3 linked regions of the Homo sapiens genome follow. The protein of the gene in region 1 purifies or fractionates together with the protein of each later gene. This does not show direct contact. Each region holds a gene or a part of one and is shown on either strand. Other genes may lie near its edges.

The links. The genes of interacting proteins can lie anywhere in the genome.
Region 2: the proteins of NELL2 (region 1) and EGFL7 purify together in Homo sapiens (affinity purification with mass spectrometry; 2 studies listed by BioGRID and IntAct, with this or other methods). This does not show direct contact.
Region 3: the proteins of NELL2 (region 1) and SEH1L purify together in Homo sapiens (affinity purification with mass spectrometry; 2 studies listed by BioGRID and IntAct, with this or other methods). This does not show direct contact.

Annotation. Positions count from the first base shown.
Region 1 is NC_000012.12:44,508,747-44,516,489, forward strand, and holds part of NELL2 (protein kinase C-binding protein NELL2 isoform b precursor), read right to left. Parts: intron 239-7,743; coding exon 188-238; 3' UTR 1-187. UniProt on the Homo sapiens protein: Plays multiple roles in neural tissues, regulates neuronal proliferation, survival, differentiation, polarization, as well as axon guidance and synaptic functions.
Region 2 is NC_000009.12:136,665,456-136,673,198, reverse strand, and holds the end of EGFL7 (epidermal growth factor-like protein 7 precursor), read right to left. Parts: intron 7,432-7,743; exon of another isoform or gene 7,382-7,431; intron 4,959-7,381; 5' UTR 4,917-4,958; coding exon 4,837-4,916; intron 4,643-4,836; coding exon 4,526-4,642; intron 3,594-4,525; coding exon 3,478-3,593; intron 3,286-3,477; coding exon 3,190-3,285; intron 3,031-3,189; coding exon 2,869-3,030; intron 2,598-2,868; exon of another isoform or gene 2,513-2,597; intron 2,250-2,512; coding exon 2,185-2,249; intron 1,274-2,184; coding exon 1,111-1,273; intron 936-1,110; coding exon 913-935; 3' UTR 521-912; downstream 1-520. UniProt on the Homo sapiens protein: Regulates vascular tubulogenesis in vivo. Inhibits platelet-derived growth factor (PDGF)-BB-induced smooth muscle cell migration and promotes endothelial cell adhesion to the extracellular matrix and angiogenesis.
Region 3 is NC_000018.10:12,957,551-12,965,293, reverse strand, and holds part of SEH1L (nucleoporin SEH1), read right to left. Parts: intron 2,135-7,743; coding exon 1,923-2,134; intron 859-1,922; coding exon of another isoform or gene 799-858; intron 1-798. UniProt on the Homo sapiens protein: Component of the Nup107-160 subcomplex of the nuclear pore complex (NPC). The Nup107-160 subcomplex is required for the assembly of a functional NPC.

The DNA.
Region 1 (7,743 bases):
TTGCCCCAGTAATTTTCCTTTTGTGATTTTGTCAAGCTCCACAAATTTCATAATTGAAAGTTCACTCAGCTATTAACAAAGCTGCATTTAGCTGCCCACAAATCACCCAATTTAAGTTTTAACTTCTTTTTGGTCTTTTAATGAAAGAACATTCTTTTAACAGAAATCTCCCATGAGACAGTTAACTTCACAGTTCCTGAAGGCACTGTGGATCCACTGAGCAACAGATGTGGCCATTCTAGATTTAAAAAAAGTAGAAAGAAAAACAGTATGAATTTTTAAGCCATTAGTAAATGATCACATTTATTGATTGGTACTTACAAACAAAACTGTATAATTTATTTCTGCATTCCTAAAAATTCAATGGCCCAATCACTTTTCATGACTCTACTATTGCAGACTCAATTATTATGCCCATTGTATTTGTGGGAAGTCATAAACTGGCTTTATTTACTCATTGGCATCCTCTGTATCACATTTGTTCTTTCATTTATTTGCAAAATATGTACTAAGTCTATGTAAGCACTAAGTATATTAATAAATAAAGCAGACATGGTCACTAACCTCACAGAGCAGGGTTTGCAGTTTATCTAGGGAGAAAACTAGTAAGTACCATGCAAACATATAATCAAAAATTGTGAAAAGTGCTAGAAAGGTGCTATGAACTAAATGTTTGCATCCTCTTAAAACCCACATGTTGAAATCCTAATCCCCAGTGTGATGGTATTAGGAGGTAAAGCCTTTGAGAGGTAATTAGTGAATGAGGGTAGAGCACTCATGAATGGGATCAGTGCCCTTACAAAAAGATGAGAACACATGCGTCCTCTCTCTCTATCTACCATGTGATACAATGAGAAATGGCCATCTGCAAACAGGAAGTGTGTCCTTGGAGATACCAGATCTGCCAGGGTCTGGATCTTGGAATGTGAGAAATGAATTTCTCAGCCTCCAAAATTGTGGGGAATGAATTGTCGTTGTTTAAGCCACCCAGTCTATGGTATTCTGTTACAGCAGCCTGAACTGACTAAGACAAAAGGAAATACACTAGGTGGTTGTGTGAGATTAATAAAAGACTAGCTACTTAGTCAATGTCCAGGGTAGACTGTTCTGTGAGGTGATATTTAAACCGAGACCTGGAGACTGCATGAAAAGGTGGCCAAACGCACAGAGGAGAGTTTTGTGTAGTTAAGAAACTGAAAAAAAGCTTTGGGTAAGAATTTTCAGTTAGGGAAGAAAACTGTGGTGATGAAATAGGATAAATAGGCAGGGAAGGGCCAGATATGCATAATTAGTTTTTGATATAAGGTATCAAAACAATATAGTGTTGTACAAAGAAGAAAAACCTTCTATCCTATTCTTTTGATTCCCTGCACTCTTACTTTTCTCAACCAGCTAACTCATAGATAATGTTAATATCGTTTTTAAAACCGTGATGATGATAATATCCCTCCATTCCTTAAGTGTGTACTCTGTGTCAGACACTTTGCCAGGCATTTAAAATACATTATCTAATTTCAACCGCACAGCATTCCCAGTTGGATTCCTATTAATAGTCACACGTTTTAGATTCAGAAACTGAAGATCAGAAAGCTTAAATATCATGTCCAAAATCACACAGCTAGTAAATGGTAGAGCTAGGATTAAAACTCAGGCTAGCCTGACTCTAAAATACATCCTCCATTATATAGTTTCTCTCAGAAAATTGGCTTTTGATGATTGAAATGCATTATACTTTAATATGATAAAAACTGAAAGTGTCTTTGTTTCTATAAAAGGAAACCTGAAAAGATTTTGATAGTCTAGCCTTTGCTAAAGCACACTGATGAGGAAAAAGCCAGTATATATCCAAGAAGAATATTATCAGTTTAACTTATTTGCATCTTTTCTAACTTATTATTAAGCTGAGTTCATATTCTGGCAGTGACAGACTCAACCATTTCTTAGACCCCTAGTGGCATTTTAAAGTTTTGTCATCATATCTCCAGCCCCTAACATATTCCTAGAGACAGAACTGTTCGATTGAGACTTGTAGAACTCAGCTGTGCCCTAGAATCTCCAAGATGCCCCAGGCTGGAACCATCTTTGCCTCTCCTGTCTGACAAAGGCCACTCTGAGGTGCCGGCTCAGAGGCACAGGTTTTCTGACCATAACCAGGTCACACAATCTTTCTTAATTCATTGGCCCAACAAAGTGATGGGTGTACCAGTTCCTGGGAATATCAGCTCCTCAAATTATATGGCTTTGGAGCAGAAATATAATTAGGGAATTTCTGGAGCTTTCCATCACTGAGTATGTGCAATTAGCATTAGAACCCTATGGGGAAGAAACCATTAATATTGCACCCATAAGTATGTCTTAGGAAGGGTTTCTTTGTTTTCTAAAATCTTCCAGGAGTGTGTTGCTTATTCCATATTGGATATGTTCTGCTATAACAGGATTCTACAAACCATATCAATGGCAGCTCCTTAATTAGGGAAGCATGGACAACTAATAAAGCATCCTACTTGGGTTCCAGTTTTACTGATAGCATAGTTTCTTATATAAGACTAACCCTCCTATAGATAACAACTATAAAGTCTGAACAAAATACAAAAATAACAATTGAAAGCAATAGAGAGTGTCAGGCAGACACTACAGCAGTTTCAATCTTTGAAAGAAGGAAAATGTACTGTGTGAGTGTTGTTTTCACTTGGTATTCCCCCTTAGGGCACTCCCCAGTCTGTGCAGCTTGAGATAACTATAAGGAAAGCAGAAAGCCACAATCTCACTGAGGTGTCAGAGGACAGCTTGGGAGTTGTCAGAGTGGCTGGAAATTGAGGGGGAAATATCTATAAAAGAAGAAGTGAATCAGTAAACAAACTCCTTTTAAATCCTTGGCTGATCTTTGAGTTGCAGAAGAGATTCTAAAGAGCAAATCAAGAGAGCCACAGTTTGAAGGTTGAAAGATATGAGAAGAGCTTTCAGATGCTGCTCACTGAAGCAGTGCGTCAGATCTGTGTCCTTCTAAGATATAAAGGATTGATAAACAGTTTAAGTTTTCCTTAGACTTCTATCTCTCACCACCTATAAAAAATCAACTAAAAATGGATTAAAGATTTACATGTAGTATTAATACCTGCAACTATAAAACTACTAGAAGAAAACATAAGACAAATGCTTCAGGACACAGGTCTAGGCAAATATTTTATGAGTGAGACCACAAAAGCACAGGCAACAAAAACAAAAATAGATAAATGAGACTATATCAAACTAAAAAGCTTCTGCACAGCAAAGAAAAAAATCAACAGAATGAAGAGACAACTTGCAGAATGGAAGAAAATATTTGCAAACTATTCATCTGACAAGAGATTCATACCCAGAATGTACAGGGAACTCAAATAACAGCAAAACACTGCAAGTAATCCAATTAAAAATGGGCAAAGGATTTGAACAGATATTGCTGAAAAGAAGTCATACAAATGACCAACACATATATTAAAAATGCTCAACATCACTAATCATCAGGGAAACGCAGGTCAAAACCACAATGAGCTATCATCTCACTCCAGTTAGAACAGCTTTTATTAAAAAGGAACAAATTACAAATGCTGGTGAGGATGCAGAGAAACAGGAACCCTTGTGCACTGTTGGTGGGACTGTAAATTAGTAGAGCCATTATAAAAAACAGTATGAAAGTTTCTCAAAAAACTAAAATAGATCTAACATATGATCCAGCAATCTCACTACTGGGTTTTTACTGAAAGGAAAAAAAAAATCAGTATATTGAAGATATATCTGAACCCCCATGCAGTATTTTTCACAATCACCAAGATATGTAATCAACCTAAATGTCTATCAACAGATGAATGAACAAAGAAAATGTGGCATATATCCACAATGGAATACCATCCAGACATAAGAAGAATGAAATCTTGTCATTTTCAACAACATGGATGAGACTTGGAGGACATTATGTGAAATAAGCCAGGTGCAGAAAGATACATACTACATGTTCTCTCTTATATGTTGGAGCTAAAAAATTCATCTTATAGAAGAAGAATTATGGTGATCAGAAGCTAGGAGGAGTATAGGGGAGAGGAGGATAGGAAGATGTTGGTTAAAGTATACAAAATTACACAGCTAGATAGGAGGAATAAGTTCTAGTGTTCTATAACACTGTAGGATAAATATAATTAATAATAATTTATTGTATATGTTCAGAAATCTAGAAGAAAGGATTTTGAATGTTCCCACCACAAAGTAATAAATGCTTGAGGTAAAAAATACCCTAATTACCCTGATCATTGCATACTGTACATATGTATCAACACTCTGTACCCCCATAAATATGTGCAACCACTATGTGTCAACCAAACATAAAAGGAAAAACCAAATAATCCAAGCTTTCCATTGAAGGCCTAAAAGGGCCATGATTAGGTGTAAAACAATACCTACAGATTAAGAGATTCATGCTAAAACTAAAGGTAAATTTGAAACAGACCCCCCCTAACTGGTGTAAAGCCAACCTCTAATAAGTGCTAGGTTATTGGCTAATAATTTACAACCTGCTAGAACAAAAACAGTCTTCACAAGAAGCCAATGGAACCTATGATCTATAAAACATATCATCCATCATATCCAATATATTATAAAAATTAATAGACGTGAAGAAAAACAGGAAAATGTGGCTCCTAATGAAGAGAAAAAGCAGTGAATGGAAAATGACTCGAAGATGATCCAGATGTTGTAATTAGCAAAGACTGGAAAGTATCTATCATAAATATGCTCAAAAATGTTAAAAGATACAGTCATAATGAATGAATAAATGGTAAAACTTGGCAGAGAAATTAAACTACTAAAAATTAAGTGGAAATTCTGGAACTGAAAAATGCAATATCTGAAATGAAAAGATTCACTGGATGAACCTAATAGCAGATTAGAGATGGCAGAAGAAAAAGCCAGTAAATTTGAAGACAAAGCAATAGAAATTATCCAATCCATAAAACAAAGACAAAAATATTGAAATAAAAATAGAACTTTAGTGACCTTTAGGATAATTAAACCATCTAAGCGAATGTTTAATTGGAGTCTCAGAAAACTATGAGAGAAAAAAATGTGGCAGACAAAATATGTGAAAAAACGATGGCTCAACTTTTCTCAAGTTTGGTGAAATGACATCAACTTAGATATCCAAAAAGCCCAGCAAACACCAAAGAAAATAAAGACCAAAAAAAAAAAAAATTAGACCTAAGTGCATCATAGTCAAACTACTAAAAACAAAGATAGAGAATCATGAAAGGAAAAAGTAGGGGAAAAAAGAAATACTGCATACAAGGGAATAAAAAAACAAATGATCACTGTATCAGAAACAATGGAAACTAGAAAATAATAGAATATCACCTTTAAAGTTCTGGAAACAAATCTGTCAATCCTGAATTCTATGTCCAGTGAAAATATTCTTCAAATATAAAGACACTTTCAGATAAATAAGAGTTGAAAGAACTTGTTACTAGCACACCTGCAATAAGGAAAATGCTAAGGAGTGTTATTCAAGCTGAAGGGAATGTAACCAGATGGAGACTCCAATATGTAAGAAGAAATGAAGAGTACCAGAAATGGTAAATACGGTAGTCTTTCCTTATCTGCAGTTTATCTTTCCACAGTTTCAGTTACCTGTGGTCAACCATGGCCCAAACAAGTGAGTAAAATGTATGATAAAACATTTTGACAGAGAGAGATAGAGAGAGAGACAGAGATCACATTCACATAATTTTTATTACAGTATATTATTATAATTATATTTTATTATTAGTTATTGTTGTCAATCTCTTACTGTGCCAACTTATAAATTAAATTTTATTGTAGGTATGTATAGAAAAAACATAGTATATATAGTGTTTAATAAGGTTCAGTATATTGTGGTTTCAGGCATCCACTTGGAGTCTTGGAACGTATATCCCTTGTGGAAAAAGGAGCTATTACTATATGTGAATAAATATAAAATATACCATTTTTCTTTTCTTAATTTCTTCAAAAGACATAAAACTTATTAAAGCAAAAATAATAACATGGAACTGTAGGATTTATAGTGAACAGAGTTGTAAAATATATTACTGTTTTAGCACAAAAGCTATGGGGATAAAATCATAATGTTGCAAAGTTCTTATATTTTATATGAGTAGTATAATACTATACCTAATTATAATATAATAAGTTAATGATATATATTATAATCCGTAGGACAACAAATACAATAATAATATGAAAAGTTATAGTTTAAAATCCAATAGAACAATTTAGATAAAATAAAAATGTTATTAAAGAAAAAGAAGGCAGGAATGGATAAACAGGTGTATAAAATATAGATAGGACAAATAGAAAACAAATGACAAAATGGTAGTCCTAAATCCATCAGTGTCACAAATTACATTAAATGTAAATAAACAAAACACTTTAATAAAAGACAGATTTTCACACTAGGTGAAAAATAAGAACAATACATTTTCTATTAAAAATGCACTTTAAATATAAAACCGTTGACAGATTGGAAGTAGATGAACAAAACAATATACTATGTGGCTAAATAAATATTAGACAAAATTAATTTCAAGTCAAGAAGCCTTGCTAGAGATAAGGAGGGACATTACATAACAACAAAATGGTCAATTCAACAGAAGATATAAATGAGTACAAGCTGTGTAATTCAATTCATATGAAATTTTATAACAGGCAAAATGAATTTATTACAAAGAAATAAAATTAAGGTTGTCTACTGAAAGTAGGTGTTACCTGAAAGGGGATCCAAAGGTACTCTCTGGAGTGTTGGATATATTCTGTATTTTGATTTATCAAACTCATCAAACTATATACTTAACTGTGAATTTCACTATAATAAATATTAACTTGATAAAAATGAAAATAAAAGTGACTCACTGAAACTCAGTCTGACTACTAGGAATAATAAGCACCTACTATCAAAACTCATTATAAAAAGTAATTATTTTTATATAGTGACACAGTAAAATAAGTTTCCTTAAGACCCTGCTATTTTTGGCTATATTTATTGTTAAAGAAGTCCTTGCCACTCTTCATGCTAACCTTTGAAAATCAAGATTAGAAGACAGTCAACTTTTAATTTTCAGCTACACTTATATTTTTTAATCCTATTACTATTGATATTTCAATATGTTTTAATAGAGTCCATTTCCTTTATTTTCAAGATTTTTGTAGTTAAATAAAGTGAATATGTAATTATACATAATATTTTTTGTTTGTTTTCATTATTATCATGACCAGTACTTTTTTTTATTATACTTTAAGTTTTAGGGTACATGTGCACAACGTGCATAATATTTTTATCTTAATTTTTATTATAAGCATTGTGATTACTTCAACAGCTGAATAATAATATATGATCTTCTAATATGTAATTAGAATATATTATATAAGTATAACACATCATATAATTGCATTGTATACAAAGTTACTATAACTTATTTAACTGTTCTATTGTTGGATATTTTCGTTTCTTCCTTAATTCTGTATGACAATGTTGAGATGGATATTGGCATGTATATAGCTTGTTTTATACTTTGATTATTTCTTTAGGTTAGATTCTCAGACCTGGGATTAAAGAGAACAATATATTTGTGTGTGTATATGGGGGTGCGGATAGTATGTGTTGCATTGTGTATTTTTTAATGATATTAACAGTGCACAAAAATAATAATTCCAGTATATCTCTGTCAGCATTAGAAATTATTA
Region 2 (7,743 bases), on another chromosome or scaffold:
GGGGTCAGCACTGTACTCCGTTGCTGTTTTTTTATAAACACACTCTTGGAAGTGGCTGGGGAGCTGTGGTCACTCACAGGGCGGGCAGGTGACCAGGGCGGTGGAGGCGACGCTGTGTCTTCCCAGCTGCCCTGCCTAGAGGCCCAGGGTGCAGGCACCGCCACCCACCCGTGTTCCCTATCCAGGAGTGGACCCACATCACCCTATACTACTTCCATCGATGGGTGGGGGTGTCGCCTAACGGGCAAGTGTGCCGGGATCCTCAGGCTACTGGGAAGGAGGCCAGAGATTTGCTCTTTGGCCTCTGGTTGGGGCCAACATGTCCCCAGGACAAAGCTCTCTGTGGCCTCACAGAAACCACCTGCCCACCCCCTCTGCCTTGGACCCCCTCCCCACCCCACGACTGCCCGCTCCACCAGGCCCCCTTTGCCAGCTGGCACCCAGCAGTGGGTCTGGGAGGGGTGGCCAGGAGGTGAGCGCCCTCCTCCCAGGCCCCCAGTCCATCCACTGACACAGCAGCTCACGTTTCATTTTTATTGTGCTGGGGGTCAGGCAGCAGCCCCCACTGAGGCCCCACCCAGCCTCCGGGCTGCCTGGCCTGTGCCATGGGTCCCAGGCTCCAGCAGGGAGCTCGTACCTTCCCTCAGCTGAGGGCCCACCTGGCCTTGGGATGCCGTTGGGGTAGCCAGGGTGGGGGTAGCCAGGGGTGGATTCACAGAGAAGATCCCAGCCCATCCCATGCCAGGGTCTGGGGAGCCTCCCGAGGAAGGGGAGGAGGAAGAGGAGGAAGGCCCTGCCTGGCCTTCCGCTCAGTCACCCCGAGGTGGTTTCTGGACCCCCAGCATGTTGGGCAGGGGCATGGGGGCTGCAGGGCGGCGTGAGGGGCTCAGTCCAGCCTGGGGCGCTGGGCAGTCACGAGTCTTTCTTGCAGGAGCCTAGGGTTGGATGAGGCGAAGGTCAGAGATCACTGCTCCCCACAGCCTCCCCGCCCAGCTAGATCTGACTGGCCCCTTGGCCTTTGGTCGCCCCCGACCCCCAAGCCTGGGTAGCCCCTCTAGGCCCACTGGGCCCAGACCCGGGAGGAGGGCTCTGGAGGGTGGGGGCACTCACAGGACCCCAGCTGCTCCTCCAGGAAGGAAATCTGCTCGCTCAGGGAGTCGATGCGGCCGAGCTGCTGGAAGGAGTGCACCAGGAGGCTGCCGGGGTCCGGGAGCCCATGCTCCAGTGCCTGCGAGGCCAGGCTGTGCAGTGGGGCCAGCACCAGCTGCAGCTTCTGTGGGTGCAGAAGGGCAGTGACCCTGGGCCGGCCCCCGCCCTCTCTGCTCCACCGGGGTCTAGGGAGGACCCCTGGGAAGGGCTCCACAAGCCTCCAGCCCCCGCCTCCGCGGCAGGGCTCCAAGTGTCCACTAGAGGGGGCTGCCGTGGCAGAAAAGCTTGCCGCAGAGTGGGTGCCTGGGGCATCAGGCTGGCGGGGTGGTCCCAGCCTTGGGGTCCCTGGCAGGAGAACTAGGGGGACAGCTGGACCACTGGCCAGTGGGAAGACTGGCAAGAGCTCTTTGTCCTGGTGGGGACAAAGATGGGGGGGTGGGGAGGTCTCGTCTGGGTCCAGGCTCTGTGTATTGTCTGGGGGGCTGTCAAGCTTGGTTCCTCCGGCCCTGGGGGGTCCTGGTCAGTGTCCAGCTGCTTCTGCCCAGCATGGATCCAGGCCAGGGCCCCCTCGGCAGTCAGCAGCGAGGAAGCCACCTCCCCAGGGCCAGGACCTTTTCAGACCACCCCCAGCCATCCGTGGGTCGGGACCATGTCCCAGGAGACTACGGAGCCTGTACCCGGGCCTGGGCCTCTGCTGTTGTGAAGACCTGCCCCCTGCCGACGTCTCACCTCCTCCAGCAGGTCCACCCTGGACTGCCTGCCTCCCCCCCCGACGCCTCATCTCCTCCAGCAGGTCCACCCTGGACTGCCTGCCCCCCCGACGCCTCACCTCCTCCAGCAGGTCCACCCTGGACTGCCTGCCCCCCCGACGCCTCACCTCCTCCAGCAGGTCCACCCTGGACTGCCTGCCTACCCCCCCGATGCCTCACCTCCTCCAGCAGGTTCACCCTGGACTGCCTGCCCCTCCACACCTCACCTCCTCCAGCAGGTCCACCCTGGACTGCCTGCCCCCCCCCCCCCCCACCAATGCCTCACCTCCTCCAGCAGGTCCACCCTGGACTGCAGCCTCTGCACTTCTTCCTTCATTGCACTGTCCACTCCTGCGGGCAGAGCCAGGCGCTGGGTCACGGCCGGCCGGCTCCCCACCCACACCCCCAGGCTCCCTCCTGTCCCCAGGGAGAGGCAGAGCCAGAAGACTCAGGCCCAGGCCTCTGCCGCCCCCGCTGCCTGCCTGGCGCTGGCCAGAGGTCTCAGGGCTATGCCGCCTAAGTACGTCGGGGCGGGTGGCTCTGCGCAGAGGCTCAGGGTCCCGGCCACGCTGAGGGAGGTCAAGGCTGAGGTCTCAGCGGCGTTTTCGATGCGGTGCCGTGGACGGCGCATTATTACTCACGGTACGAGTTTGAAGTGTCACAGCGCGTACCAAAAGTAATAATGTCCCGTCGCCAGCGGAGGCGTGGCGTCTTCCAGAATGCTGCGCTGGATGCAGACAGGACCCCGGGACGGGGCACTTCTGCCTTCTTGGCTGATATGAGGCTCCGGGCAACCTGCCCCCAGTTCTCGGGAACCCACCTATCCTCCCTCCCCATCCTCCCTCCCTGGAGAGGGAGTCCCCACCGCCTTCCGCCCAGATTCCAGTGCCCCCCACCATGCCTAACAGCCACACGGCAATGTCCACTGCCTGCCCGCCTCCCCAGGCCAGGCACAGCCAGGGCTGTTTACCTGTCGGGTTGGGGGCCACCCTGGGGGGCCCTCCCTTGGGCACACAGAGTGTACCGTCTGCAGACAGGCTGTGCCCCTCCCAACACTGGCACCAGTAACTGCCGGCGGTGTTGACGCAGCGCTGGGGACAGCCGCCCCTCCTAGCACTGCATTCATCCACATCTGCAGGAAACGGGGTGTCAGGCGGCCATGCCTGCGGGAGGGGTCCTGCCCACACAGCTCCCTTCACAACCACCCACTCATGGGCCAGCAGTAACCCCAGGACATGCAAGGAGGTGCCCAGGACCCTTCCAGGGCCCCCCAGGGTAGAGCCAGCCTCACCTGACTGGCAAGTGTCACCCCGCCATCCTGCAGGGCAGCGGCAGCGGCCAGGCTGGACACAGCTCCCTCCGTTCCGGCATGGCGGCTGGCATATTGCTGTGGGCGGGGGAGGCTGGTCACCAGCTCAGTTGGGTCCCCAGCACCCTGTGGGGGCAGCTGCTAGGGAGTGGGTGCTCTGCGGCAAGGTGGTGCTTTGCTCGGGGTTCAAGAAAAGCAGCAGGAGCGTTGCTGGAAGATTGGGGAACAGTCGCCCTCCTAACACCGGGCGCCGAGGGACATAGCCCTCACCTGCTCCACAGGCCCCAGGAAGCCCGCTGGTCCTCTTCCAGCCGGGGCAGCACGCGTAGCGAGGCCTGGCAGGGGCCAGCCCAGGGCTGCGGCGGTAGGCGGTCCTATAGATGGTTCTGTGGGGTGGGTGGGACAGCTCAGAGGGGCATCCTACTCCCCCTTAGTCACCTGCTGGGCATCTAGAGTCCCCTCTCAGAGTGCACAGGGTCACCCCAGCATGCCCCCAAGGGTCTTCTCCTCAAGGGATGGCACTGAGGGGTCACTGCACAGCCGTTTCCCTGCCTGGGCCTTCCGGTGCTGGCCGGGACTCAAGCCACAGCAGGAAGGCCCAGCCACACTCCGCATGGAGCAGAGGCAGTGGCCAGGCCTGTGTGTGCCCCCACCTATCTGGTCTCCTACTGTGGGGGCATCCAGGCCCAGAGGAGAGGGTGTGCCCGGCCTACGGCGAGTCACGGCAGAGTGTGGGCCCTGGGCATCGGAGCCCTTCTTAAACCTCCAGAAGTCTGAATTCCCAGGCCCCTCCCCCAGCAGGGGGTGGAGCTCCCACACCCAGGAAGGAGGACTCTGAGACTTAGGGGTGTGTGCCCCTTGTGTGGGCATACAGGACATTTCAGGGTCTCATCTGTGCCCACTGGGGGCCGTCATGTGGAGGGGGGTGCCCAGTGGAGTGGGACCAGGGGAGTCAGGCACCATTCTGTGTATATGGGAACTTGCAGCCAGGGATGCCAGGGTAGGGAGGGGTTAGTCCCCCGGAAGTGGAGGGGTGCAGACAGGATGGGTGACCCCTCTAAACATGGGGATGCTCTTAGAGGTGCGGTCCTTTGAGACGTGTCGGGGCAAGAGCAAGGATTAGGACACTGGAGGTGATCGTGGAACCCCTTGGCTCCGGCCGCCCTGGGTCGCCCATCTCAGGCAGCCCTCTCATGGCTCTGGCCTCAGTTTCCCATCTTGGGTCCCAGGATTCACCCCCGCCTCGCCCCTGACATGCTGATGTGTGGCCGACTTGGGAGGCTGGGGCTGGGTGAGCTCGGTGTGGTGGGGCACTCACCGGTAGGTGCTGCAGGCCCGGTGCCCGTCGCAGGTGGTGAGGAAGGGCTGGTACACACGCTGCACGAACGACTCGGAGACAGGGTCCCCGTGAGCCCGGACAGCACACACCCTACGGCTGCGGGGGTGGAGAGGGGGTCAGCCCAGGAGTCCCAGAGCAGGACCCAAGAATGATGGGAACATGTGGCCGGGGCAGGACCCTCAGCAGGAGCCCCCAGGGAGTCCCCGACAGGTGCTGAGGGCCGCCTCTAGGAGGTGCTGAGGGCTCCCGGTCCCCCCACCCCAGCACTCCCAGGCTAGGGCTTGGCTCACCCGGGCCGGTAGGCGTGCTCTGTGCCGCCCACTGCCAACACCAGAAGCCACATCAGCAGCACCTCCTGAGAGCCCCTCATGGCCTGTGCCTCCAGGCGGGGTGGCCTTCTCCTCTGGGTGGCCTGGGGCACAAAGCATGACCCCTAAGTCTCCCCGCAGATGCCCCCAGGACGCGGGTGCAGTTTGCACTTGCTCCGCGAGGCCTGCCCAGCTCATCTCCGCTGGAGCCTCCACCGGTGGGACAGCCCCACGGTGGCGCCCACTCTCTCCTCCGCTGGCCCCCTCTTCCAGCTAGCCAGACCCTCGCCAGGCACAAACAGCTGGGGCCACAGCCTGGGGGCACAGGGGGGGTGACGCTGTCCAGAGCTCTTGGTGCAGGAATCGAGTGGATCCTGCTGGGCATCTGCCCGAGGCTCCGGGAAGGATGGCTCCAGCTACGGGTGGCCGTTTCTCCTGTCCTGCCTGGTTCCAGGGCCCTCCTCACAGCAGGGCAGGGGTGAGTTTGCACCCCAGTCTATGCAAACGGGGTGTTCGTGGGCAGAGCTGGGATCCAGCCCCACCAGGGACCTGCCGGCCTCAGCCCTTCTGGAATTTGATTTCTCATCTGAGTGTGGAACCGGCCCCAGCAGGTGGGCCAGCAGCTGCAAGCCAGCAGGAACCGTGCGGAGGGTGCACACATTCTAAGACCACCAGAGGGGCGGCCTTCATTTTAGAGGGGGTCCTTCCCAGGCTGGGATATGTGTGCAATCAGCCTCCAGGGATCCTGGGACAGTGGCTGTGCCAGGTGCACACCTGGGGGTGAGGAGCAGCCCCCGACAGTGTCACCGGAACCGGAATCCAACCCCCTCCTGGCTGTGCAGCAGGAGCCAGGGGCCCGGGTGAGGCTTCCTGAGAGCATGAGAGCCCAGAATTAATGGTCTGTGGCAATGCCGGGGATGGGGATTCTGTCCTATGCGCAGCCAGGGGTCTGGAGACCTGGCGAGCCCCTGCCATGCTGCAGGGTCCCACCCAGGGCCTCTCACGGGTGCTTCCCAAAGGCTGGGTGGGTTCCTTCCGAGGCACTGCAGGGCCCTCCGCAGGGAAAGGCCAGGCTTCGGGTCGGGGCAGAGGCTGGGGTAAGGCTGTCCCTTCTCTGGGATTCAGTTTCCTCACACACTAGAATAGGGTCTCTGAGGCCCCTCCTCAGCTCTGACAGCCAGTCCTATAAATAGTCACACTGTCCTCAGTCGCTGCTGGCCAGCCCCACTGGGTGTGGAGCACGATCCCACACCTGCTTCCCACGGGCACTGCCAAGGCATCACCCGGTCCCAGCGGGGAGGGTGGCTGGGGGTCCTTCCTGGGCCTCCAGTCCTCTGTGCGCTGGAGAGAGGAGGGCAGGGCAGAGGCTGCCAACTAGGCAGAGGCTGCCCTGGGCAGCTGAGGGGTGGGGACTTAGCTTGGGGGCAGGGGGGGCATCACAGCAGTTTTTGGGCAGGAGTTTGTCGAGGGGGCAGAGCTGGCTGGAGATTAACTCTGGGGATGGGCCCTGGATGAAGGACACTGTTAGGGGCTGGGTCTGGTGCGACCTCAAGGCAAGACTCGAAGTCGGGGGACATTGGGGAGTGGGACCCGGGAAGGAAGAGGTAGGGCAGCGGCCCGGCGGCTTGATGTGGGCAGGGGGATGCCAGGGCGGGCCTGGGGGTAGGCGAATCTCCCAGACCTCATTGCCCCCCACACATATTGGCACAGCTCCCCCCCACAATTCCTGAGAGTCGCCTGGACAGGAAGCGGTGCTAAGTGGAGACTCAATTTTTGAAAGTCATGTTTTCCCGAGGCCAGAGGAAGCCCGTGGTGCTCTCCGAGCCGGTGCTGCAAGCCCCATTTCCCCGGGGGGGGCCACGGCCTCGACCCAGGGGTGCCGGGCGGGGAGGGGGCGGCGGCGCCAGGTGGACCAGCAGTCCGGTCCCCGTGCCCCCAGCGCCCACGGGCTCCCTCCCCACCTGCCCGGCAGCAGCCCCGCAGCCCCCACCCGCGAGAGGCCGGGTCCGCAGAGGGAGGGGCCTGGCTGCGCCGCAGGCACTGGCGGACCCCTCGCGGCGGGAGCAGGGCTGGGGACCGCGGGGCCCACGAGGGAGGGCGCAGAGGCGGAGCGAGACGGACCTGCCCGCCGCCCCCTCCCAGCCGCGCTGCTGGCTCCGGGGTTCGCGGGGGGCGGAGCAGGCGGCACAGGCTGGGCCCCGAGGCGCTGAGTCGCGCCGGGTCGGACGAGGGGCCGCGGCGACCCCGGCCCTCCCCGCCGCGCCGCCCGCCCGCCCGCCGCCGGCAGGGGGAGCCGGTTCCCGGGGCCGCTGGGCCCATTCTCCCGGCCCGGCCCGACCCAGCCGCGGGCGCCCCGGCCCGCTCCGCCCCCGGCCCCAGCGGTCGCGCTGCCTCGTCCCGGAGCCGCCCCCAGCTCCGCGCGCGGCCAGGTTCCCCGCCCCCGGGGGCTCCGCGGGTCCCGCCCTCGACCCAGCCCGGGCGGCGACCGGACCCCGACCCCGGCGCGCCCCGCTCGCTCCGCACTCACCGCCGGATCCGGGGCGCGCACGCGCCGCCGCCACTGCCGCCCGAGCCCGCGCCGTGGGGGCCCCGAGCCCCGCCCCGCCCCGCCCCCGGCCCCGCCCCACCTGGCGGCCCCGCCCCGCCCCCATTGCGCAGACGGGGAAACTGAGGCCCCGCGGCGGACGAGCTGCCCCCGGGCGGGCAGTGACTCTGCTGGAACCCGGGGCTGACGCAAACGCGCCTCTGAGCCGCGGCCCGCCAGCACCCCCTCCGGGAATCCTGGGGCCCGAGTCCCCGCGGCAGGGCGCTCGCTGCGCGGTCGCTGGGGACGCACGACCAAGCCCGGCCGCCAGGAGCCAGGAGAGGCCGCCCAGGGCGCCCACACTG
Region 3 (7,743 bases), on another chromosome or scaffold:
ATGCCTGTAATCCCAGCAGTTTGGGAGGCCGAGGTGGGCGGATCACAAGGTCAGGAGATCGAGACCATCCTGGCTAATACGGTGAAACCCCGTCTCTACTAAAAATACAAAAAATTAGCCAGGCGTGGTGGCAGGCACCTGTAGTCCCAGCTACTCAGGTGGCTGAGGCAGGGGAATCGCTTGAACCAGGAGGCGGAGCTTGCAGTGAGCCTAGATTGCGCCACTGCACTCCAGCCTGGGTGACAGAGCGAGACTCCACCTCAAAAAAAAAAAAAAAAAAAAAAGAATGAGGAAATGGAAGGGGCAATGTGAGGGGGAAGCAATAAACTAATTCCCTCTTTTTTAAGAGAGGGGAAGCCAGGCACAGTGGCTCACACCTGTAATCCTAGAACTTTGGGAGGCCAAGGCGGGCAGATCACCTGAGGTCAGGAGTTCAAGACCAGCCTGGCTAACATGGACAAACCCCGTCTCTACTAAAAATACAAAAAAAACTAGCCAGATGTGGTGGCGGGCACCTGTGATTCCAGCTACTTGGGAGGCTGACACAGGAGAATCGTTTGAACCCAGGAGGCGGAGCTTGCAGTGAGCCGAGATCATGCCACCACACTCCAGCCTGGGCAATAGGGCAAGACTCCATCTCAAAAAAAAAAAAAAAAAAAAGAGACGGGAGTAAATATATAGTCTAAAAATTGATAAATATGTGTAGAGATATATATATTATTTGAAATTATAATAATTACCAGTATAACTCCAACAACTATCAACATCACCACAAATAAGATATCTATCTAGTCATACCTTGGGATGTGGAAGTTGTATAAATGTGCTCTATTCATCTTTTCTATCAGTTTGGATATTCTTTAATGATAACATAGCAAGAACATGTGGAAAAATAGCAGAATAAAAATTTTTAAAAAAAAGATAACATAGCAAGAACCAAAGGTATAAGTAAATCCTTTAAAAATATACTAGTGACTACCAGAATTAAAGTCTGAAAACAGAACTATTGACAGCATTTGTTTTTAGGGGGTAAAGGAACTTTACCTTTCTTTTTGTATTCTTATGGATTATTTCAATTTTTTTCTTCACCAAGTGATTCTTATAATTGTTTAAAAACAGTTTAATAAAAAGCAACTATGGTAATATTCATATAGTCATGCTCTATGCAGCAGTTAAAAAGAAATGAGGTAAGACTAGATATATTAATATATGGAAAAATGCCCACAATGTATCTTTAAGTGAAAAAAGCTAATTGCAAGGAAGGAAAATGTAAGGGTTTCTGGCTGGGTGCAGCAGCTCACGCCTGTCATCCCAGCACTCTTGGAGGCCGAGGCAGGCAGATCACCTGAGGTTAGAAGTTCAAGACCAGTCTGGCCAACATGGTAAAACCCCATGTCTACTAAAAATGCAAAAATTAGGCAGACGTGGTGGCGCATGCCTGTAATTCTAGCTACTTGGGAGGCTGAGGCAGGAGAATTGCTTGAACTCAGGAGGTGGAGGCTACTGTGAGCCAAGATGGTGCCACTGCACTCCAGCCTGGGCAAATGAGCAATACTCTGTCTCAATCAACCAATCAATCAATCAATCAAATGTATGGGTTTCAATATCTGGTGTTCTGTGTCTACTTGTGCTAGTGAATATCTGGGCGTGTTTGCATATATGTGTTTATGACAACATTAAATAGTTATTTGCATATGCATAGAAAACATCCAAAAGGTTCACATGAAAATATTTACAATGCCGGCTTCCTCTGTTGAGTGAAAACAGGGACAAATGACATGCCTGGGTGAAAAATGGAGAACATATACTCTATATATCTTGAGAAGAAGCACCTTTGAGAGAATAAATTATCAAATTGTTAGCTTAAAAGTTACTAGTTTATTTTACTAGGATGTTATCAGAGGTTTAATATGTAAACTTACCTTGAAGGGTTCCAAGAAATACAACTACAGCTTAGCTTACATGAGATCTCATGCTGCAAAGACCACTGGCTGAGATTCATAACATCTGGTGCCTCATAGATTCTTACTATACCATCTGCGGAACAGGTTGCTAACATAAGACCCATGTGCTTGGGAGCAAACTTCACATCAGTAACAGATGTTCTGCTATCCACCAGAGTTGTCCTTTTAACCTAAAAAAAAAATAATAACAATTTAAATTATATACAAAAAGAAAGCATGGTAGAGTGGAAAAGACACACAGACTCTGGAATCACACAGAAACTCCTCTATCATTCACTAGGTATATAAGCTTGGATACATCTCTGGGCCACAAGTTCCTACAAGTACATGGCAAAATACCACATATATAGCTGGGAATCACTAACAAATTAGTGAGCTATAATTAATTACTCCCTTTAATGAAAAAAAAGTCTACCTCCAAAAGCCTACCTTTGTTATATAAGTAATCTCTCTTAAGCAAACTGATCACAAAAAAAAAAGAAAATGTTAGAATTTTCAGACAAGAAGTTTTGTCACACAAAGCATGCTGCAAGCATTAGACCCTTTAACTGTAAATGAGTTGGGCGTGATGGCTTACACCTGTAATCCCAAAACTTTGGGAAGCCGAGGCAGGCAGACTGCTTGAGCTCAGGAGTTCAAGACCAGCCTGGGCTACATGGCAAGACACCGTCTCTACTAAAAACTAAAAAAAAAAAAAAGCCAGGTGTGGTGGTGCACGCCTGTGGCCCCAGCTATTCCGGAGGCTGAGGCGGGTGGATCGCTTGAGCCAGTGGGGCAGAAGGTACAGTGAGCAAAGATCGCACCACTGCACTCCAGCCTGGGTGACAGAGTAAGACCCTCTCTCAAAAAAAAAAAAAAAAAAAAAAAAAAGAAAGGCATGCAATTTCTTCTCTCAAGAATAATTTTCTGTTAATCCCATTTGGACCACTATTATTATTATTTTTTTTTTTTTCTTAGGGACAGGGTCTTGCTCTGTCACCCAGGCTGGAGTACAGTACCATGATCATGGCTCAAGTGATCCTTTTGCCTCAGCCTTCCCAGTAGCTGGGATGACAGGCACCTGCCACCATGCCCAGCTAATTTTTCTTATTTTTATAGAGATGGGGGGGTCTCACTATGTTGCCCAGATGGGTCTCAAACTCCTGGCCTCAACTGATCTTCCCACCTCAGCCTCCCGAGTTGCTAGGATTACAGGTGTGAGCCACTGCACCCAGCTACCATGCACTTTTAAGTGAAGGCTTTTAACAGGGACCAAAAGAATGGTAGAAAGCAAGCTTTATGATCACTGTAAAATTCCAACATCACATTTAAAAGTTATCTTCTGGCACACAGATAAGATGAAACTTTACTAAAAACATCAATAAGCTCAGGTGCAGTAGCTCACGCCTGTAATCCCAGCACTTTGGGAGACTGAGGCGGGTGATCACTTGAGGTCAGGAGTTCAAGACCAGCCTGTCCAACATGGTGAAACCCCATCTCTACTAAAAATATTCAAATTAGCCAGACATTGTGGCGGGCGCCTGCAATCCCAGCTACTAGAGAGGCTAAGGCAGGAGAATCGCTTGAGTGTGGTCGGCGGAGGCTGCACTGAGCCGAGATCATGCCACTGCACACCAGGCTGGGTGGCAGTGCAAGACTTTGTCTCAAAAAAAAACTAAGTCAATAAAGTTTAGCAATCAACAGATTACTGTCTATGGTTACCAAAATCCTTCTTAAAGAGTCTCAACATTAAAAGGATAATATTACATAAACTTCAAAGATAACATCTTAGCAAACTTTTGTCTACAGACACCACTGAATAATTAATACAAACACAAATGTTGAGAAAATAAATGCATTTGTTACAGTAGGTAGTCAGACATGAGCAGGGCAGCAGAGGACCCCACCCCACCAGGAATGTCAAGCAACCATCAGGTGATGATCAGGCAGTTGTTAAACTTTCTCTCTAAACTAATCATTGGTTGCAGCCAGTGCCAGGGAAAGGTAGTCTCCCAACAGATAGAAACACCTGAAACTGGTGATCAGCAGCTTCCTGATAAGATCTGAGGAGTTGGATGACTGGGCTCAAGCATGTGCACTAAGAGGAAAAATGGTGGAGCTTAACTGATCTATGACCTTCTAGGAACATTCTGTTAAGGGAAAAACGCCTCAAGTGAGCATCTGCGCAACTCCAGTAAACACACTGCACACGCAGCCCCTCCCAGGCACTAGTGGGCCACTGCACATGCGGACTGCCCACCCCAAGGGAAGAATCAGAGAAGAGACGCAACCCCTGGGAAGCATGCCAACGTGTAACAACCCAAGTCCAAGATCAAACCATGCATTTGACTCTCTCAAGTCACCCACTTGGCCCTCTTCCAAATGTATTTTACTTCATTTCTGCTGTAAAATTTTTTAACAAATTTCCACTCTGGCTCTAAAACTTATCTTAGTCTCTTACTCTGCCTTATGCCCCTAGGTGGAATTCTTTCTTTTGAAGAGGCAAGAAATGAGGCTGCTGCAGACCCATATGGATTTGCCACTGCTAATATATTAATGAAAGATGACTAAACTAAATACAAATAAGTATCTTGAAATTCAAAGAAAAGTCCTTCTTATGCCACCACTCCCAAATCCAATCTATAGTATACTGAACTGACACACCTCAGACTTAACGCCAAAAAAACTTTTATAATTCTATAAATTTCTATTCCTTCCTCCCCATAAGCAGCTGTTTGGCTTAGGGAAGCCCTAGTGCAAAGGCAATCAGACATACTCCTCCCCTGAGAAGAGCTGTAAAACAGTCTGAATAGCCACTCAAGCTACAAAGCTACCGGAATTAAAACAGTGTGCTATTAGGACAAGGAGACATACAGATAAATGTCCACAAGAGAGCCCAGAATGCAATCCTCCATATATATAGCCATTATTTTCAACAAAGGTGTCAAGACCATTCAACAGGGGAAAGAATGGTCTTTTCAAGAAATGGTGCTGGGAAAACTAGATTTCAGCACCCTAACATTTTTTAATGACTGAAATAAATAATTTGTATCAGGCCCTTGCTTGCTTGCGCATGTTAACCACTCACTTTTTGCTGAATATCCCTTGTTGCCACAATATAATGATAAACTGTTGATGTACTGCTTCTTTGTCAATCAAGAGAAGATAACTTCAGCGTCATGTAAAGAAAAATGTTGCCAGAAGAAATGAATGGCTTTAAGGACACTGTGACCAGCTGCTAACAACCAGACATCTGGTTGCTCAAGGCGTTACCTGAGACCAAAGAAACACAGACTTTTCCACTGGATTCTGTGAAACTCCCCCTCCCTTACTAGATCTAGTCACATAAAATCTACCCAATGCTTCCTTTTGTTTAGATGGATTCGAGAGATCTTGCCCTCCCATCTTCTTGCTTTAGCCAAATCGAATAAACCTTTCTCTATCTCCAAGTACCGGTGACTCAGTGTTTGCTCTCAGCTCCACATTGGGGATACAAGCCTGAATTGAGGATTCTATAACAATCTTAGAAGAAAACATTGGGGAAAGTCTTCATGACACTGGATTTGGCAATGCTTTCCTGGATATAACACCAAAAGCATGGGAAACAAAAGAAAAAAATTTAGATAAACTAGACTTCAAAATTTTAAAATTTCGTGCATCAAAGGAAACCATCAAGAGTGAAAAAGGCAACCCACAGAACGGGAGAAAATATTTGCAAATCATTTACAGGTTGTGCATATCAAATCCAAAAATCTGAAATCTGAAATGCTCCAAACTCCAAAACTTTTTGAGCACTGGCATGATGCTCAAAGAAAATGCTTATTGAAGCATACCGAATTTCAAGTTTTTGGATTTAGAATGCTTAACTGGGGCTGGCCACGGTGGCTCACACCTGTAATCCCAGCACTCTGGGGGGCCAAGGTGGAGGATCGCTTGAACCCAGGAGTTCAAGACCAGCCTGGGCAACTCTATTAAGTAAATAAATAAGTAGGCGAATGCTTAACTGGTAAGTATAAATGCAAATATTGCAAAATCCAAAATCCAAAATCCAAAACATTTCTGGATCCTAGCATTATGGATAAGGAATACTCAACCTATAACAGATAAGGGATTAATATCCAGAATATATAAAGAACTCCTATAACAACAAAAAACCCAATTTAAAAAAATGGGCAAAGGATATGAATAGTATTTTCCCCAGGAAGACATACAATTGACCAATAAGCACATGAAAATAAGGTCAACATCAGTAATTATTAGAGAAATGCAAATCAGAACCACAATGGAGATGCCACTTCACAACACAGTCACTAGGATGGCTACAATAAATAGCACCACAACAAGTGCTGATGAAGATTTGGAAAAACTGGAACCCTTGAGCATTGCTGGTAGGAATGTAAAATGGTGTAGCTGCTATGGAAAAGTCTGACAGTTCCTAAAAACGTGAAACATAGAACTACCATATGAGCCAGCAATTCTACTCCTAGGTATATTTCCAAAAGAATCGAAAGCACGGTCTCAAACATTTATCTGTACAACAATGCTCATAGTAGCAGTATTCACAATAGCCACGAAGTAGAAACAACCCAAGGGTCCATCTACAAATGAATGGATAAACAAAATGTGGTATACACACACAATGGAATATTACTCAGCCATAAAAAGGAATAAAGTTAATATATGCTACAAAATGGACAGACCATGAAAACATTTTACTTAGTGAAATAAGCCAGTTGCAAATGGACAAATACTGTGATTCCACTTACATGCAGTACCTAGTCAAATTTATAGACAGACAGTTGAATAGGGGGTAGAGGGAGGAGGAAGGGGGAGGCATTCTTTAAAAATATGGAGTTTATGTTGGCAGTGATGAACAGTTTTGAGTACAGATAACAGTGATGGGTACACAGCACTGTGAACGTAATTAATTCTACTGAATTATACCATTTACAAATAGTTAAAATGGGCCAGGCATGGTGGCTCACGCCTGTAATCCCAGCACTTCAGGAGGCCAAGGCAGGAGAATCATTTGAGATCAGGAGTTCGTGACCAGCCTGACCAACATGGTGAAACCCTGTCTCTTCTAAAAACACAAAAAAATTAGCCAGGCATGGTGGCACATGCCTGTAGTCCCAGCTACTCAGGAGACTGAGGCAGGAAAATCGCTTGAACCCCGGAGGCGGAGAATGCAGTAAGCCGAGATCCCACCACTGCACTCCAGCCTGGGTGACAGAACAAGACTCTGTCTCAAAAAAAAAAAAAAAAAAAAAAAAAAAAAAAAAAAAAGTTAAAATGAGGAATATTATGTTATACATATTTTACCACAATAAAAAATTGCATCATGGCCCTCGTAGTGGCTCACGCCTATAATCACAGCACTTTGGGAGGCCGAGGTGAGAGGATTGCTTCAGTCCAGGAGTTCAAGACCAGCCTGGGCAACATGGTGAAACCCCATCTCTACAAAATAAAAAAATCAGCCTGTGGTGCATGCCTGTGATCCCAGCTACTTGTGGGGCTAAGGTGGGAGGATCACTTGAGCCCAGGAGGTTGAGACTGCAATGAGCTGTGACTGGCTCTAACGTAGTATCATGCCATTAGGGAGGGCAGGTGAGGGGTAATAGCAGGACACTCCCACTACACACTTCCTTTTGTTTCTTTTGAATTTTACACCATGTGCATGATTATCTATTACAAAAAACAAATCATAAAGGGGGAAAAAAAGCATGCAGATGATAATACCTTCATATGAAAATGCTGGAAAGAGTCTTAAATATAATCTAGTTCAATGTTTTCACTTTAT